Regions from separate parts of the Homo sapiens genome. Here region 2 is linked to region 1. The links come from fine-mapping of genetic effects on gene expression. A gene starts in region 1. The other region holds a variant in brackets. All regions are shown on one strand. Distances are from middle to middle.

The links. PIP is the estimated chance that this variant, and not a neighbour inherited with it, causes the effect.
Region 2: its variant is fine-mapped to the expression of RPS19 in fibroblasts (GTEx, PIP 0.91).

The regions. Positions count from the first base shown.
Region 1 is chr19:41,857,424-41,862,793 of GRCh38, reverse strand. It overlaps RPS19 (ribosomal protein S19), which reads right to left and starts at 2,539. Exons shown (of 6, transcript NM_001022.4): 1 at 2,505-2,539; 2 at 1,949-2,019; 3 at 1,582-1,682. The coding sequence starts at 2,019. RefSeq lists silencers at 2,218-2,337, 2,398-2,527 and an enhancer at 2,081-2,836.
Region 2 is chr19:41,131,416-41,136,785 of GRCh38, reverse strand. It overlaps LOC124904790, which reads left to right. Exons shown (of 3, transcript XM_047439802.1): 3 at 1-1,152. The coding sequence ends at 50. It also overlaps the pseudogene CYP2T3P. Among named protein-coding and RNA genes, the nearest start is that of CYP2F1, 20 kb to the right of the region's middle. The variant G/A (reference allele first, on the strand shown) is at 3,171.

The sequences.
Region 1 (5,370 bases):
GATGCACATCCTGCTTGAGGTTTCCAGGCAGGGCCACTGTGGGCTGCAAGGGACCACAGCAGCTCTACCATGACCAGCAGATGCAACTAGGTTTATTATCCAAGGTCTTAATGCCATCTCTTGTTAATCCCTCCCCATGTTAAAAAAAAAAAAAAAAATGTACAAGACACATACAGTCCTACTTTGGAGGTATTTGGTATGTGCAGAACGTGTCTTCACCCCAGCAAATGAGAAAGGCTAATCCCAGATCCAAAGCTGCTCTGACCAACTGACCCTTGAGGCACTGCCAAAGCAAGATGGGGGGACAGGTGGAGGAGATATGTAACTTCCAGGGCTTGTCACTGCTGTGCGCCCAGGGAAGTCAGCTTCTCTTCATCCGCCCCATTTTCTGTCTAAAACAAACGGTGGGTAGGTGGTATGCCAGCAACCCGACCCACCTCAGCAAGTTCATCTTTCAGTCCTCAGAGGCCGCGGCTGAGTTATGCTGGTCCTCTGTGCTCACTCCATGGCCTGAAAGAGTGGGCCCCAATAGACATTTGAGGCACAAGTGTACCACAAATCTACAAAATGCTTCATATTCTGAAGGGCCAAGCAACCTGTACCAAGGCCAACTCTTTTCCGGGTCATGGAGGAGTTTTGCCGATTTCCAAACCCTGCTTCCCACCTACTTCTTATCTGGAGACAAGTTGTGGTCAGGATGGAGTCCCCACTTCACAGAGAGAGAAGGTTTAAGATTGGAGAGGCCGAGGCCCCTTAGTGAAGGTCGGTGCTAAGGCTGTCACCTTGACATAACACGGCACTGCCACCGCCCACCCTGTTACATCTTCCTGAAAGTGAAGATTTAGTGAGTACTGAAATATTAAGACACGTGAGAACTAACACTAGTCAGGGACTGTACATAAATTATTATTGGAAGATTGAAAAGAGACGGGGCTGGCACGAGGTTGCAGGGTGTCCATAAGATCAGAAGTCAAGATTTAAAGCAGGGACTGACCTGGCCAGATCTCCAACCATTTAGTTAGAAACAGCCTGTTAGAGATATGGAGAAGGCTAACTTGATGATCTGAGCAATAGTAAAGACAACTGGCTTTTTCCTGAATAACTACTGTGCAACAGACACGTTCTAAACACTCTGCTTTAAATTCATTCAATCCTTGCAATACTCTAGTACTGGTACAATAATTAGTCCCATTTTGGGGATGAGAGAGTGCACAGGCAGGTTAACCAACTTGCCAGAGGACACACAGCCAGATGTAAAAGATGGATCCAAACCCAGGGAGTCTGCCTCCGTGTATATAGAAAGGATTAAACCACCTGTAAGCAAAATATGAACATTCATCTGTCTCTGGTTTCCCCTGAGGCTCAAAGCCACAGGTCCTCCTCTCACAAAGCTCTTAGAATGTCATAAAAACTTGGAGTACCAAGTTATCGAATGTCACATCACACAAAGCAAGTGGTGACACAACCAAGGGTTTCTCTCCCTCTTGGGGCGGGAAAGAGCTCAGAGGAGACAGGGAAGTATGGTTTGTGCCAGGGGTCACCCAGCTCCCCACTCTCCAGCCAAAGACCTAAGTTCCTCACCAGCTCGCGTGTAGAACCAGTTCTCATCGTAGGGAGCAAGCTCTTTGTGCTTGGCCAGCTTGACGGTATCCACCCATTCGGGGACTTTCAGCTTCCCGGACCTAAGACCAAAACAGTGGGAAAAGCACGATTCAGTCATCTCCACAAACTACCCCATATCCCAAATGCCCTCCCCTCAACACAACTATGCTGTGCCCAGAGTACAAAGAGAGGCTGGAACCGGAACACAAGCCAGGCCTCACGCTGAAAGGAGCCACGGAGGCCCCAAACAAGCCTCGCCTGCCAGGGACCGGCAAACACTGGGGCTCAGATGGGCAGGCCAAGGCGACAGCCTCCACCCGTTTTGAACCTCAGTCCCCAAACTCACTTTTTGAGGAAGGCTGCCAGAGCTCTGACGAACTCCTGCTGGTTCACGTCTTTTACAGTAACTCCAGGCATCTGAGGGAGAAAGTCAAGCATGTGAACACAGGCCTGGCAGAGACGACTGCCAAGAGCACGGACCCCACCCCAATCCTTTCGCTCCAGCGCATCCTAAACCGTGGTACCCCCCGTTACTTCCCACGGCCCCTTCAACGCCGGGCTCCGGCTCCTGCGGGTCTGAAGGAGCTCACCGACGCCCACGGCCTCTCTGGATCGCACTAACAGAGCCCGGCCCCTGCGTGTGAGGATCCTGCGCGACCCCACTCCCCAGCCCCGGGACTCCGGACGCCCCACGCACCCCGCCGCTGCCCCCCGGGGCCCACGCTCGGTTCCCGGACGGCGCTGACCGGGCATGTCCGGGCCTGCCGCTCGCACGTGGCCGCGGCTCTAGGGGGCGGGACGGGCCCGCGCCGGGCGCCTCGGGGCCCTCAGGCACGCGCTCTGAGGCTTCGGCGTCCGGCCCTGCCGCCTCGCGCCCGGTCCAGCTCGGAGCCCCCGCTTACCGTGCGGCCTCCGCGCTGCCAGCCAGGGGAAAGGGAACGACGGGGTTTCCCGGGCGCACAAGTCGGGCGTAGGGTCTCGCGAGAGTTCCGAAAGCTCGCGAGAGCGAGGGTAGACGCTGAGGCTCCGCCTCTCTCAGGGCGAAAGTTCGTCCCCGCCTAGAGGGGAGGGTGTCTAGTGAGGGGTGGAGAGGTAAAGGGGAGGGCCAAGGGGTCGCGCGTGGAGGCCTGGGTTTCCTCCCGCGTTTCCTTCTCCCGGAGTGTAATAGAGAGAGGATAGAGAGCTCCTGTTCGGAGCTGGGGGAACTTGGCTTCGTTTGCGTCGTTCGTGGCTGGAAGGAACAGTGGTGGAGAATACTATGATGGCGAAAGTACGGGGCAGGATGGGTGGGCCACAGCTGGCGCCCCACGGCGGAACAACCCCTTTTCCGGGTGGAAGTGGCTGTTCCCTGGCCGGAAGTGGGAGTAGTAAGGGCGGAACTGTGACAGGGAACCTAGGGGAAGGGCGAGGAAGAAATGTGGCTATCATCTTCCGTCCTTCACCGCCAGGAGTCGCGAGAGCGGGAGACGGAAGCCCCACCCTTCTCAGGGCGGAAGTTGCTTCAGCACGGCCGGGGCGAGCGAAAAGGGAATGAGGCGCTGGAGGAGGGGAGAAGATAAGGGCGGGACAAAGCGGCAGAGGCGGGACCTTAGCAGAAGTTAGTTCAGCTCTGCCTTCTAGTGTCGGAGTCTGTTCGCTCAGCCCTTACTTTGCCAATTTAGATTTACCTGCCCCGCTGACCTGTGTAGCTTTAGGCAGTCCATTTGCCTTCTCAGGGCTTGTCTCACCATTAAAAAAAAAAAAAAAAAATGAGATCCCCGTTTGTCCATTTAAAGTGGCTCCTCTGGTTCATGGCGCGTCACATGCTCTAAAAAATATTTTTTGAGTGCCTGCTCTGTGCCAGGCACAGGTAAATATTATTTGGACATTTATCATGTGGCTGTTACTGTAGTGTTACATGCATGATCTCATTTAATCCTTACAAGGCCCAACAACTAAATAACGTGGTCCAATAAAATTATGTTAACTTGTTGCAAAAAGGAAACACTGAAATGTGTGTAGCTATTTTCTTATGTTGGAAAGACTGAGAATTTAAAACATAAGAGCAAATATTAGAATTTTACCCCACACTGATACTGTGGCTGCAAAATGTGTTAATTATTAATAAGCCAAGACTCGTATCTGTTAGAAAAATTAAAACCAACCATGCTTCTAGCATAAGATCATATATTTAAATCAAGGTTTTACATTCATGTAGAATGTTGTTGAAACCTATCTCATACTGTTTCTAAAACTTGAGAAAATATTTTCATTATCTCAATTGTTTTTCCAGAACCAACACATACATATTTCCATATGTATTCAAAGTGGGTAATATATGCATGTCTAACTGGAAATCTCCAGGTACTTGGGTAATTTATATTCACTTTTTATAATTTAAGTAATTATTATTTAATTTTTTTTGAGTTGGAGTCTCGCTTTGTCGCCCAGGCGGGAGTGCAATGATGTGATCTTGGTTCACTGCAACCTCCACCTCCCGGGTTCAAGCGATTCTCCGGCCTCAGGCTCCCAGGTAGCTGGGATTACAGGTGCCTGCCACCACACCTGGCTAATTTTTGTATTTTTATAGAGACGGGTTTTCACCACGTTGGCCAGGCTGGTCTCGAACTCCTGACCTCAGGTGATCCACCTGCGTTGGCCTCCCAAAATGCTGGGATTACAGGTGTGAGCCACCGTGCCTGGCCCCCACTTTTAATAATTTCTAATACCAGTTCTGAATCATTTACACTTAATTCATTTAAGTCATTTCATTGAATTTAATTTTTTTTTTTAAAGCTCTCCAGAGGAACTCTGGAGTGCCTGACCAAAGGAAGAGACAGGGTGAATATAGGATTTTGGGAAGAGTGAAGCTTAGGTAAAATTTATATAAAGCAGAGTTTTGATGGACATAAGGCAAAGCAGGCATGTATTTATGCAACGGAGCTAACATCATGCCTGGGCGAGGAGCAGACCCAGGATTCTGCTTCCTTGGACATTAGAAAGTTTAGATAAATGTACAATGTTGTCTCTAAAAACCGCTTCTCTGAGATCATGACTGCTTCTCTGTGTCAAAGTGACTTAGACTTTCCAGGTAAGAATGAGATGTCCCATTTTCACTATTGTTATGATTTTAAAGATTTTTAAAAATTCTGGCAGTCTGTGATTTTAGAGAACACAGTTTCTCAGCACTGTGTCCCTGGTGTTAATTTTTGTACATGTTAGTTTTTACAGGTTCATAATTGACAACTCTGTGAGGTGGTTATAGACCAGTCAACTGAGCCTTAGAGTCAAGTCATTTGTCCAGGGTCACATAAGGTTAAAGCCTGAGCCCGGATTTGAAGCCACAACTGAAGATACTCAAGCTTTTGCAATAAACTTTTTTTTTTTTTGAGACGGAGTCTCGCTCTGTCGCCCAGGCTGGAGTGCAGTGGTGTGATCTCTGCTCATGCAAGCTCCACCTCCCGGGTTCACACCATTCTCCTACCTCAGCCTGTCGAGTAGCTGGTACTACAGTTTCCCGCCACCACGCCTGGGTAATTTTTTGTATTTTTAGTAGAGACGGGGTTTCATCGTGTTAGCCAGGATGGTCTTGATCTCCTGACCTTGTGATCCACCCGCCTTGGTCTCCCAGAGTGCTGGGATTACAGGCTCATGCCTGTAAATTTAGTGTATAAGTACAGAATTCCCATAGTCCCCATGCTGACACACAGGGATGGCCTCCCTTTCTATCAACATTCCACACCAGAGTGGTACCTTTGCTACAATCAAGGAACACAATATTATCACCCA
Region 2 (5,370 bases), 730 kb after region 1:
ATGTGCCAGTGTTGTTGGATTTGCTCAGAGATGAAGACCTGCAGCTCTGAAAAGTTTTGGAAGATTTGGTGGTGCGGGCCCGGGAGCCAGTCCATGAGAGACAGGCAAATGTACATCTGGAGAGACAGGGTCTCAACAAGGGCCCTGGACATGCCCACTAGGCCTTAGTTTCCCTACAGGGACTTTGATATTGGAGGTTCTAGAACTCTTCCAAGAATCTAACTGTCCCATTGTAGGTACGTCTGTGTACTCGGGATTTGGCATAAGGCTGGACGCACAAGGGAGAGATTGTGGCCGGCCCTCTCACCTCGCCCCATTTGGAACTCATGATGCGGAAGTTGTCACTTAGGAGGTTCAGGACCTCAGGAACTCCGGGTCCCCGTAGCCATAGCGGTTCCCGAAGACAAGAACAGGTAACACTGGATACAGCATTACCCAGTAGCCGCACGGGGTCAAACGGGGCTCCTGGGGGTAGGAACAGGACGGTGGTCATAACGCGTGGTCCTGCCCCCAGCCAGCCCCATGGGCTTACTGGCTTTCTTCCACCCAAATACCTTCCAGTGGCCCCGTCTTGGCAGTGCAAGGGACTCTCCCACACCAGGCCCTTCCGCTCTCCCGGCCAGGCCGAAGCAATGGTGGCTTGAAATTCGTCTAGCAGACAAGCCGCCTCATCCAGGACACGCGCCTCGATGGTCCGCGTATCCAACCCGAACTTCTTCGGCGCTCCAAGTGCAAAATTGCGCAGTGTCCACCAGCACGGCCGGTTAGAAAACAAGATTCCTGTGGTGGGGACGGGAAAGGAGGCGGGCCCGGGAACCGGCCACGCCCCATCCAGGAAGCGCCGGGTCACTGGCTACATCCCTTTCGGGGCCTCCGACTCCTGCGGCCGGCTTCGTTCGTTTTGCTGCCTTACCAGACCTCCAAGTGCCCTATCCACACATTGGCCCCGCCTTTGCTGGGCTCCATCCCTGACCTAGGCTGGCTCTGGGACTTTGAATCTTAGGCTCTTTTCTCCTGTTGGCTGCAGGATGAACCTCCATTCTAACCTTACGCTTTAGCGCCGCCCCGCCCTCTCTCGGCCGTTTGCACCTCATTAGCTGGAGTCTCTATTAGGCCCCGCCCCCATTTGCCCGCCTCTACCATTTACCCGCCCAGCCTGGAGCGTCCGGACCGGCAAGTCCAGCGCCGGGGCCTCACTGTTTCCGCGTGTGAAGCGTTCGAAGACTGCCATGGACCCGCGGCCGGAGACCGCATCCGCCTGTAGCACTAACGCGTCCCGCAGCGCTGCGTAGCCGCACAGCACCACCGCAGGGCGCGGGCCCAGCCGCACTGTGAACACCCGGCCCCAGCGGCCGGAGAGCTACGGGTAGCCGGTGCTCAGCGGGTGCCCATAGGGTTCCTCATCGGAGCCATTGCCCCCAGCTCCCTCTTCCTTCAGACCCAGGAGTCCTCGTCTCAGACCCTCATTCCTCAGGTCCAGGAATTCAGATCCCCAGCTCCTTCCTCCCTGAGATGCGGGAGTCCAGGCCCCCACTTCCTTCTTCCCTTGGGACCTAGAAGTCCAGATTCCCAACCTCCTGTACCCTCAGAGTGTCTCCTGGGCCCTCAGTACCTCCCCACCCTGAACCAGGAGAACAGACCCCCTGCTCCCCTCTTCCCACAACCTGATTTCCTGCTCTGGGCTCCTTCCTTACGACCCAGTGTCCCGGCCCCAGGCTCTCCACTCCCTATTCTCCTTTCCTAGTACTCAGCAGTCCGGAGCACTCATCCTTCCTGTCCTTCCTCAAGATCATAGAGTACAAGCCCTCAGCTGTCTTCGTTCAGGAGGAGTTCTAGTCCCCAGCCCCACCTCCACGAATCCAGAATTCCGTTCCCCCATTCCTGTCGGGAATGGAGCGCGCGGTCCAGGCCTCCGGACTGCAGCTGCAAGTTCCCCAGCAATGGGAGCAGCCTGGGCCGGGGAGGTAGGGACCCCCGCATCTGAGCGCGGCACCCACCCTACCCCCACCACGCCGGCACCAGCACCAGAAGCCACAACAGCAGCGCAGCGATACCCGCGATCATCATGCCTGCAATTCTCCACGCCTGCACCTCTATTTGATTTCCAAGGGGTCTTGGGTGGAGCAGGGGCAGAGACCCGATGTGGGAGGAGTGGGCATCTCAGGGCTGCTCATTCCATGGATTCCCCAGCCCGACGTCTCCAGCCCACCCCCAGCCCTGGTGGAACTGTGCCCTGGCTCCTCCTGGCTTTTTTTTTTGTGCCTGCCTCAGCCTGCCCCACTTAACATCTTTCGTACACCAGCATTTTCATGTCAACACACCTGGCCAACAGGTGCACCCTCCTGAGCCCCTAGCACCTTTGAGTCCAATTTATTTGGCCTGTAGGTGTGTATTCCTCAATCTCCGGGCCATCTCTGGGCCCCCTGAACGCTGTACCCTGTACCTCTGATTCCTAAATACACACCGACTCTCAAATACACTTCTTCTTCTTCTTCTTCCTTCTTCTTCTCCTTCTTCTCCTTCTTTTTTTTTTCAGAGTTTCGCTCTTGTCGCCCAGGCTGGAGTGCAGTGGTGCGATCTCGGCTCACTGCAACCTCCGCCTACCAGGTTCAAGATTCTCCTGCCTCAGCCTCCCAAGTGGCTGCGATTACAGGCGTGCACCACCAGGCCCTGCTAATTTTTGTATTTTTAGTAGAGACGGAGTTTCACCATGTTGGCCAGGCAGATTTTGAACTCATGACTTCAGGTGATCCGCCTGCCTCGGCCTCCCAAAGTGCTGGGATTACAGGTGTGAGCCACTGCTCCTGGCTCAAATACACTTCTAAAGACACCCCTGGCACTCCTGTGCTCTGTGCCTGTGATTCCTAGGAGCTCACACCTGAGCCCTTGTCACTTCCATTGCTCTTGGGACCCTGTGTGCTACGCTTGTTCCCCAGATCTGCCTTCAATTTCCCTGGCTTCTGGGTGTCCATCAGCCTGGCACTTCTGTGCCTCTATTTCTTCAGGGTGTCTTTCTGCATGTTGACCCCCTTGTACTTCCATATTATGTCCTGCCCTGAATCTACCATCTCTATTCCCAAGGCATTGGCTCCCAGATGCCCCCAAATGTTCTGTGCCCATGCTGCTGAACCCCCTGGTATCCAGTCCCCCAAGTCCTTGTCTGAGGCCAG[G/A]CCATGATGGCAGACAAACTTATCCCTTATTCTCTCATCTATCCCCCACTACCCCCAATCCTAGGGCATGGGCTAGAGGGGGCAGACTCAGGCCTGGATGGGCCAGGGTTGCGGTGGTGGCAGCAGTGAGTGAGGTTGGGGCTGTATTTGGAACAGACTGTTCAGGAATGTGGTCCACCCTCCTGCCTGCCCCTGCTTGGCCAAATCCAGCCTTCCTCCAAGTGCCTGGCACAGGGCCCAGACCTGGCGAGCCAGTGGGCGGGGGGGGGGGGACTGTGCAGAGCCTAGGACTGGCATTGTCTCTGGGAGGGTCTCTCTGTGTCTCTTTGTTTCATCTCTCAGTCTCACTTGCTCTCTCTCTCTTTTCTTTCTTTTCCTTCCTTCTTTTCTTTTCTTTCTTTTTTTGAGACAGAGTCTGGCTTCTGTCCCCCAGGCTGGAGTGCAGTGGTATGATCATGGCTCACTGCAGCCTCAACCTGGGATCAAACAATCCTCCCACCTCAGCCTCCCGAGTAGCTGGGACCACAGGTACACACCACCACATCCTGCCAATTTTTGTATTTTTTGAAGAGACAGGGTCTCACTGTGTTTCCCAGGCTGGTCTCCAACTCCTGGGCTCAAGCAATCTTTCTGCCTTGGTCTCCCAAAGTGCTGGGAGTATAGGCATGAACCAGCGTGCCCAGCCTCCCTCACGCTCAGTCTCTATGTTTCTGTGTTCATCTCTCTCTCTCTCCTCTTTCCATCTTTTCCCATCTCTCTCTCCTTTCTCTCAGTCTCTGCCTCTGTTTGTGTCTGTTTTCTGTCTCTCTTTTCAGTATGTCTGTGTCTTCCTCTCCCTGTATCTCCCCCAGTCTGTGCTTCCCTTTGTCTCAGCCTGGCACTTCTGTGCCTCTCCTTATTTCTTCAGGGTGCCTTTCTGCATGTTGACCCCCTTGTACCTCCATATTCTGTCCTGCCCTGTCCTGGGTCTTCCTACCTGTCAGCCTTTCTGGAACCTGGTGACTGACATGGGTTGTCTGGCAGGGCCCCTGCTCAGAGCTGCTGACTCCACTGACAGCGGGAGTGTGGTGGGGCACAGTAAGCTGCATCCTCCCCCAGCCCTACCCCACCCTCTGTGACAGGCTTTAATGGATCCTCTTTATTATGGCCTCTGGTTTCTCCCCAGCTCCTGACTCTTCCTCCATTTTGCTCGGGTGGGCTGTCCTCTGGAATGTCAGCTCTTCCAGAGCAAGGATTTTGTCTTGTTTGCTTCTGTATCCCAGCACTTAAAATAGCGCTCAGCACAGCAGTAGGCACTTAGTAAATGTTTGTTGAATGAATGCCCAATTTTTCTTCCTCCCTACCTCTCTTTGTTTTTTTATAGAGATGGGGTCTTGTTAAGTTGGCCAGGTTGGTCTTCAACTCTTGGTCTCAAGCAATCCTCCTGCCTCAGCCTCCTAAAGTGCTAGGATCACAGTCGTGAGCCACCGTGCCCAGCCTCTTTCTTCCCTCCCCTCCCCTCTTTTCCCTTTCTTCTTCTCTCTTCTCTTCCCTTCCCTTCCATCTGTCTTGTTCTGTTGCCCAGGCTGGAGTGCAGTGGCACCATCACAGCTCACTGCAGCCATGACTGCCTGGGCTCAAGTGATCCTCCCACCTGAGCCTCCCAAGTAGCTGGGACTAGAGGTGCGTGCCACCATGCCTAGCTAATTTTTAAAATATTTATAGAGACCAGGTCTCGTTATGTTGCCCAGGCTGGTCTCAAACTCCTGGGCTCAAGTGATCCTCCCGCCTTGGTGTTTCTATCTCTTTGTAATTAGACTGGATTTCTCTGTTTCTCTCTTTCTTTTCCTCCCTTTTTCTTTTTCTCTCAGGTCTCTCTATCTCTCTTCATTTCTGTTCTCTTTATTTATCTTTGTCTTTCCTCTCTCTGGACATCGCTGTCTTTCCCTTTTCTCAGTGGCTGTCTTTCTCCTCCCGGTCTCTGTTTTCCAGGATTTCTCTGCCATCCCTGCGTTATCTGTCTCTTCCTTTTCCTCTCCATCTCTTTTCAGTGTCTCCAGGTGTTTTTCTGCATCATCTCTCTCTGCCTGTCTTTCTCAGGACCTCTGAGTCTCTCTGTGTCTCCCTCTCTCCCCCAACCTCTGTGTCCCTGGCTGGGCCCTGGGGCCGACTCTGGTCAGCCTGTGATGGGAACAGTGAGGGGATTAAAGAGCTGACACCT